Homo sapiens: one gene and its partner. The protein of the gene in region 2 interacts with the protein of the main gene of each other region in a pairwise test. Each region holds a gene or a part of one and is shown on either strand. Other genes may lie near its edges.

Region 1 (2,696 bases), on a different chromosome or scaffold from region 2:
CATGGTTAAGTAGGCTAGGCTAAGCCGTGATGTTCATTAGGTTAGATGTATTATATGTATTTTCAACCTATGATATTTTCAACTGATAGTGGGTTTATTGGAAAACAAACCCACCATAAGTTGAGGAACATCGGTATAGGCGCATATATATATATATATATATATATATATATATATATATATATATATATATATATTTTTTTTTTTTTTTAACTGAGTTTTGCTCTGTTGCCCAAGCTGGAGTGCAGTGATGCAGCCTCCACTTACTCCCTCACTGCAGCCTCCGCCTCCCGGGTTCAAGTGATTCTCCTGCCTCAGCCTCCTGAGTAGCTGGGATTACAGGCACCTGCCACCACATCCAGCTAATTTTTTAATATTTTTGGTAGAGATGGGGCTTCACCATGTTGGCCAGGCTGGTCTCGGAACTCCTAACCTCAAGTGATCCACCCACCTCGGCCTCCCAAAGTGCTGGGATTACCCATGTGAGCCACCATGCCCGGCCTAGGCATTTCTTTTTATTATCATGCTATGTAAGGTGAGAATCTGAGAGTAAATTGAACTATATGTTAGTGTATTTAACCTTTACTATCTGTAGTTATACAACTAAATATTGACACTCTAGGAATCTCTAGTCTCCTGTTTATAAAATAGGAATTTCATCTTTCTCTATCAAAATAATATGGCATTAGTTAGGATTCAGTGGAGAGAGATAAACAAAATGGTATTGTGTGTGTGCCGGGACTGTGTTAAGTCTCTACAAGCATTTTTTTATTTAATCCTTATAGCAGCCTTATGAAGGAATGTTTTAATTTTCTATTTTTTAACCCATGAGGGAACAGGCTCAGAGGTTATCACAGGCTCATACAGATGGCAAATATAATAGAAGAGCCAGGTCTAAATAGGTGTAGTTAACTACAGCTTCAACCCTCATGAAATCAGCCAGGTGCAATAGCTCACACCTGTAATCCTAGCACTTTCGGAGGTCAAGGTGTGAGGATCGTTTAAACCCAGAGGTTAAGACCAGCCTTGGCAACATAGTGAGAACCTTTATCTACAAAAAATAGAAAAAAATTAGCTGGTCATGGTGGTGCGTGCCTATAGTCCCAGCTATGTGGGAAGCTGAGGTGGGAGGATCACATGAGCCCTGGAGGTTGAGGGTACAGTGAGCTATGATCATGCCACTACACTCCAGCCTGAGTGACAGAGTGAGACCCTGTCTGAAAAAAAAAAGAAAGTTGACATGAAATTATTTTTTATTTTTATTTTTTTATTTTTTCCAAGACGGAGTCTCGCTCTGTCGCCCAGGCTTGAGTGCAGTGGCATGATCTCGGCTCACTGTAACCTCCGCCTCCCGGGTTCAAGCAATTCTTCAGCCTCAGCCTCCCGAGCAGCTGGGACTACATCTGTGCCACCACACCTGGCTAATTTTTGTATTTTTAGTAGAGACGGGGTTTCACCATATTGGCCAGGCTGGTCTCGAACTCCTGACCTTGTGATCCGCCCACCTCGGCCTCCCAAAACGTTGGAATTACAGGCCCAGCCGACATGAATTTTTAAATATATTTAACCGAAAAAAATGACAAGTTTCCCAGTTGGAGAAAAGAGGGTTCCCATTGTGTGCATGCACATGTATACACACAGTTTCTTGTGGTTGGGGGAAAAAATGCATTTTATTTTGCCGGGCACAGTGGCTCACTTTCGGAGGCCAAGGCAGGTGGATCACTTGAGGCCAGGAGTTTGAGACCAGCCTGTCCAACATGGTGAAACCCCATCTCTACTAAAAATAAACATAAAAAAATTAGCTAGGCATGGTGGTGCACATCTGTAGTCCAGCTACTCAAGAGGCTGAGGCACAAGAATTGCTTGAGCCCAGGAGGCGGAGGTTGCAGTGAGCTGAGATTGTGCCACTGCACTCAGCCTGGGCGACAGAACAAGACCATCTCAAAAAAAAAAAAAAAAAGGGTATTTTATTCTACAGAGTCCTATGAAAGCAACTACCCAGAAGAAATGGTACACTTTGCAGACTGTTTTCAAATAAACATTTTCCTTTTAGTTTCCACTGTCCGCAACAGCCCCAATGGTGTGGCTTCCATACTCCTCTATTGATCAGCTTCTCCAAGCTCTGGGAGAGAACAGTGCCAACAGTCACAACATCGCAGTAAGTCAGCCCTTTCATGAGACGTCTTGTGTAAGCCCCTGCACTAGCAGTTACACCTTACAGCTTGATCTTCAGTTCTCCGGGATTAGAAAGGGAAGACAAAAGCCTATTTTTGGCCCTTAACAAACTGCCCAGTCCCTTTATAGATAAGGCAGAGGATCTAAGTAACAGGATCAAGAAAACATAATGAGGAACTGTGTAAGTGTTAATTATACAGAGACAAATGGCAAGCAGTCGGTCCATCCTTTAAAGCTTTTAATTTGGTAGGGCAGACCCTACAAGGTAAACAGGTACTTGAAATACAGCAATGATAGGCCGGGCGCAGTGGCTCACGCCTATAATCCCAGCACTTTGGAAGGCTGAGACGGGCAGATTACCTGAGAGGTCAGGAGTTCGAGATCAGCTTTGCCAACATGGTGAAATTCCATCTCTACTAAATATACCAAAACTAGCCAGGCATGGTGGCGGGCACCTGTAATCCCAGCTACTCGGGAGGCTGAGGCAGGAGAATCGCTTGAACCCAGGAGGCGGAGGTTCC
Region 2 (3,830 bases):
CAAGGCACATCAAAAGAGCAATGTAGGCCAGGACCGGTGGCGCATGCCTGTAATCCAGCTACTTGGGAGGCTGAGGCAAGAGAAGAGGTTGCAGGAGCTGAAATAGCCCCACTGTACTCCATCCTGGGCGACAGAGCAAGACTCTGTCTCAAATAAGTAAGGCAGTGTAAATTTCTAGACATATGCTATTTATGGGCATGGTCCTAAAGTTCTTAGAGTAATTAATAATGCCCATGCTTACTAAGTAAAGATATCGTAGTCCAAACTTCAGTGGACTCTCATCTTAAACTACTTAAGATGCAGATTTTTATGTAAGTATGTAGTTTTACAGCTTTAGAGTTAGGAGTTACCTTTAAATAACCTTGTTAAAAACGTGTGTAGGGTAAGAAACATACAAATAGGTTCAGTTTTCTGACCCACCAATTCTAGGTGAAGTCTCTCCCATTTACTAGTGTTCCCCTGGCCCTCTTGTTAACCAAACTGGATTCTAAGTGTTTGTCAGTATAGTCCACCATGCTCTGTGTGACATGGGAGCAGGTGCCATTTCTACTTGACTCACTGTTTGATCTTCAACACCTAGAATAAACACAGTAGGAGCTAACAGGAATACATACTTCAGGAACTCAAAACATTTTTTGATCACTAAAATAATATTTTTTTTCTTTTTGAGACAGGGTCTCATTCTCTTGCCTGGGCTGGAGTTCAGTGGCGCAATCACGGCTCACTGCATCCCCAACCTCGACCTCCTGGGTCCAAGCGATCCTCCCCTCTCAGTGTCCTGAGTAGCTAGGAATACAAGTGCATGCTATCGTGCCCAGCTAATTTTTTTATATTTTTTGTAGAGATGGGGTCTCCCTATGTTGTCTAGGCTGGTCTCGAACTCCTGGGCTCCCGAAGTGCTGGTATTACAGGCGTGAGCCACTTTACCCAGCCTGAACATTTATTTTCATTGTCCAGTGATTATTTTGGAGGTGAGGACAGAGAGTAGAATGAAATTCTTAATTTCTGAGAATTATAGAAACTTAAAACTGGTGGATAAGTTAAAAATTGCAATAATTTGGCAGGGCGCGGTGGCTCACGCCTGTAATCCCAGCACTCTGGGAGTCCGAGGCAGGCAGATCACGAGGTCAGGAGTTCGAGACCAGCCTGGCCAATATGGTGAAACCCCGTCTCTACTAAAAATACAAAAATTAGCCAGTCATGGTGGGGGGCGACTATAGTCCCAGCTACTCTGGAGGCTGAGGCAGAAGAACTGCTTGAACCTGGTTGGGGGGGGGGCGGAGGTTGCAGTGAGCCGAGATCACGCCACTGCACTCCAGCCTGGGCAACAGAGTGAGACTCTGTCTCAAAAATTAAATAAATAAAAATTGCAATAATTTGTTCTGTAAAGTTATTTCTCATAGCTACTGGAAGGACTTTCAAGTCAGACTATGGCATCTTACATTTCTTTCCTTAAATGTTACTATTCTTTTCTAAATTTCACGGCCAAATAAAAAATGTAACACATAAGTTCTCCTCTGAAATCTCGTACCTACTCATGAAACAATGTAAGCCACACTTTCTAAGCTGAAGGAGTAAGGTCTGTGCATTATGTCTAGGAACTAGTATACTGTGAGCATATAATATTTAACTCTCATGCTTTCCTTCTGAGATAGGGTCTTGCTCTGTCACGCAGGCTAAAGTACAGTGGTGCAATCATGACTCACTGAGGTTTCAAACTTCTGAACACTCCCACCATGCCTGGCTAATTTTTAAATTTCTATTTTGTAAAGACAGGGCCTCGCTATGTTGACCAGGCTGGTCTTGAACTCCTGGGCTCAAGCAATCCTCCAGCCTCAGCCTCCCAAAGTGCTGAGATTAACTAGCATGAGCCACAGTACCTGGCTAGGATGCTTTTCTTATGGTGGAAAAAATTCTATTATAAACTTTATTGAGGGACATTAATAACAATTTTGAGTATTCAGAAATGAGTTCTTACCCATTTGTTTCTGTAGGTCTGAAGGAGTTACTTCTGATGCAAATACATCTTTATCTCCATCCTTTTCAGTTTGTTCAGTTACATTAGTAGTTAGTGCAGTGGAAGAGCTTTTGGGCTTAGAGGCCGTGAAAACAGTCTCTTCAAGGTCTTCCGGTGACGGTGCATCCTGATACTCTAAGGTAGTCTCATCGGATGTGATTGAAACACTGCTGTTTCCTTTGCTCACATCCAGTTTCTCTAAACTTTGTGACCCCTCATCCATTTCTTGATGCTCCTTTTCAGGGCTGTTCAGGAAAAAAGATGTGGTCCTATCTTTGCTCTTCAGCCATTCAGTTTCCACTGGAACTGCACATTTTTTAGGTGTAGTAAATACTTCTAATTTGCTATCATCTGCAGCCTGTAAAGTAAGATTTTGAAAAGAAAAAAATTAGTAAATATCACAGTTAAGTCTAGTCCTAAGCTACCCATCCCAATCATACCCATACTTTCTTTGTTGTTTTTACCCAAATTCTCTCCTTAATAAAAATTCATTTATTCTAAATCCATTCTCTTCTAGTACGTAAAAGTTAATGGTGGCTAATGTTTCCCTAATTGGTAATATACCAGTATTTTCAGAAGACTACAACACAGAACAGGCTAGATGACCAATAATCACTGAAAGGTTCCTATTAACCTACAGTGGACCTCAAGACACACCCTCAAAAACATATAACTAGTTAGAAACAACACAATATAAGGTAAAAACAAAGATAAAAGAAGGACTAAAAATTAGGAGGTTTGAATCCTACTCCCAATTCTACCACCATACATCTAGCTGACTACAGCCAACTTACTTGGTGCTTCCGAGTCCTATTTATCTGTAAGATGATGGGTTTGGCTTAGCCAATGGCCCTAGTGTTTCTTTCAGAACTAACCTTTTCTTATTTCATTACTAGCTACAAGATTATATACAAAAATCTATAGTGGTATTTAAAAACTTGATTTATCTAACTTTTTACTTGTCAGAGCTAATACATTCTTATTAAAAAATGTCTTTTCTCCCAATTATTATCAAACTTACCCCAGGAATCCATTTTGGGTGGACATCTTCTTCCACAAATGAAATTCTAGTTTCTTTAAGTCGTTGAGGAGACCTTCCAGGTGATGGAGAGGGAGATGCTAAAGGTGTTGATCGAAGAGTAGACCTCAGGATGGACTGAGGAGTGAACTCAGAAAATCCAGAAGTAGTAACTGACATGGCCAAACTTTTAGCTTTCTATAGTAAAGAGCAAATGGAATTACACCATTAAAAGTGCTTATAGGCCGGGCGCGGTGGCTCACGCCTGTAATCCCTGCACTTTGGGAGGCAGAGGCAGGCGGATCACCAGGTCAGGAGATCGAGACCATCCTGGCTAACACGGTGAAACCCCGTCTCTACTAAAAATACAAAAAATTAGGCAGGCGGGGTGGCGGGCGCCTGTAGTCCCAGCTACTTGGGAGGCTGAGGCAGGAGAATGGCATGAACCCGGGAGGTGGAGCTTGCAGTGAGCCGAGATTGCGCCACTGCACTCCAGCCTGGGCGACAGAGCAAGACTCCGTCTCAAAAAAAAAAAAAAGTGCTTATATAAAAACAGATGGGGTCAACTGAGTCACAATAGTGGTTATATTCTCATCTCATCTCCAATAAACATATCAATAGAAATATTTATTCCAGATTTCTGCAAAGAAAATACAAAATTCTTCCAGAGCTTTTTATACGTAAGTCTACGAAACATAAAACTGCATCCATCTTTCTAAAAGCATTATTTCCAACTTAAATTCAACTAAAAAAGTGCCAATTAGTAAGATAAATTACTTAAATTATAGAATTATA

What was found.
Region 1: the proteins of AHCTF1 (region 2) and NUP160 interact in a two-hybrid assay, tested with the Homo sapiens proteins (one study listed by BioGRID).

Annotation. Positions count from the first base shown.
Region 1 is NC_000011.10:47,779,805-47,782,500, reverse strand, and holds part of NUP160 (nuclear pore complex protein Nup160), read left to right. Parts: intron 1-2,053; coding exon 2,054-2,158; intron 2,159-2,696. UniProt on the Homo sapiens protein: Functions as a component of the nuclear pore complex (NPC). Involved in poly(A)+ RNA transport.
Region 2 is NC_000001.11:246,858,921-246,862,750, forward strand, and holds part of AHCTF1 (protein ELYS), read right to left. Parts: intron 3,234-3,830; coding exon 3,039-3,233; intron 2,376-3,038; coding exon 1,979-2,375; intron 1-1,978. UniProt on the Homo sapiens protein: Required for the assembly of a functional nuclear pore complex (NPC) on the surface of chromosomes as nuclei form at the end of mitosis. May initiate NPC assembly by binding to chromatin and recruiting the Nup107-160 subcomplex of the NPC.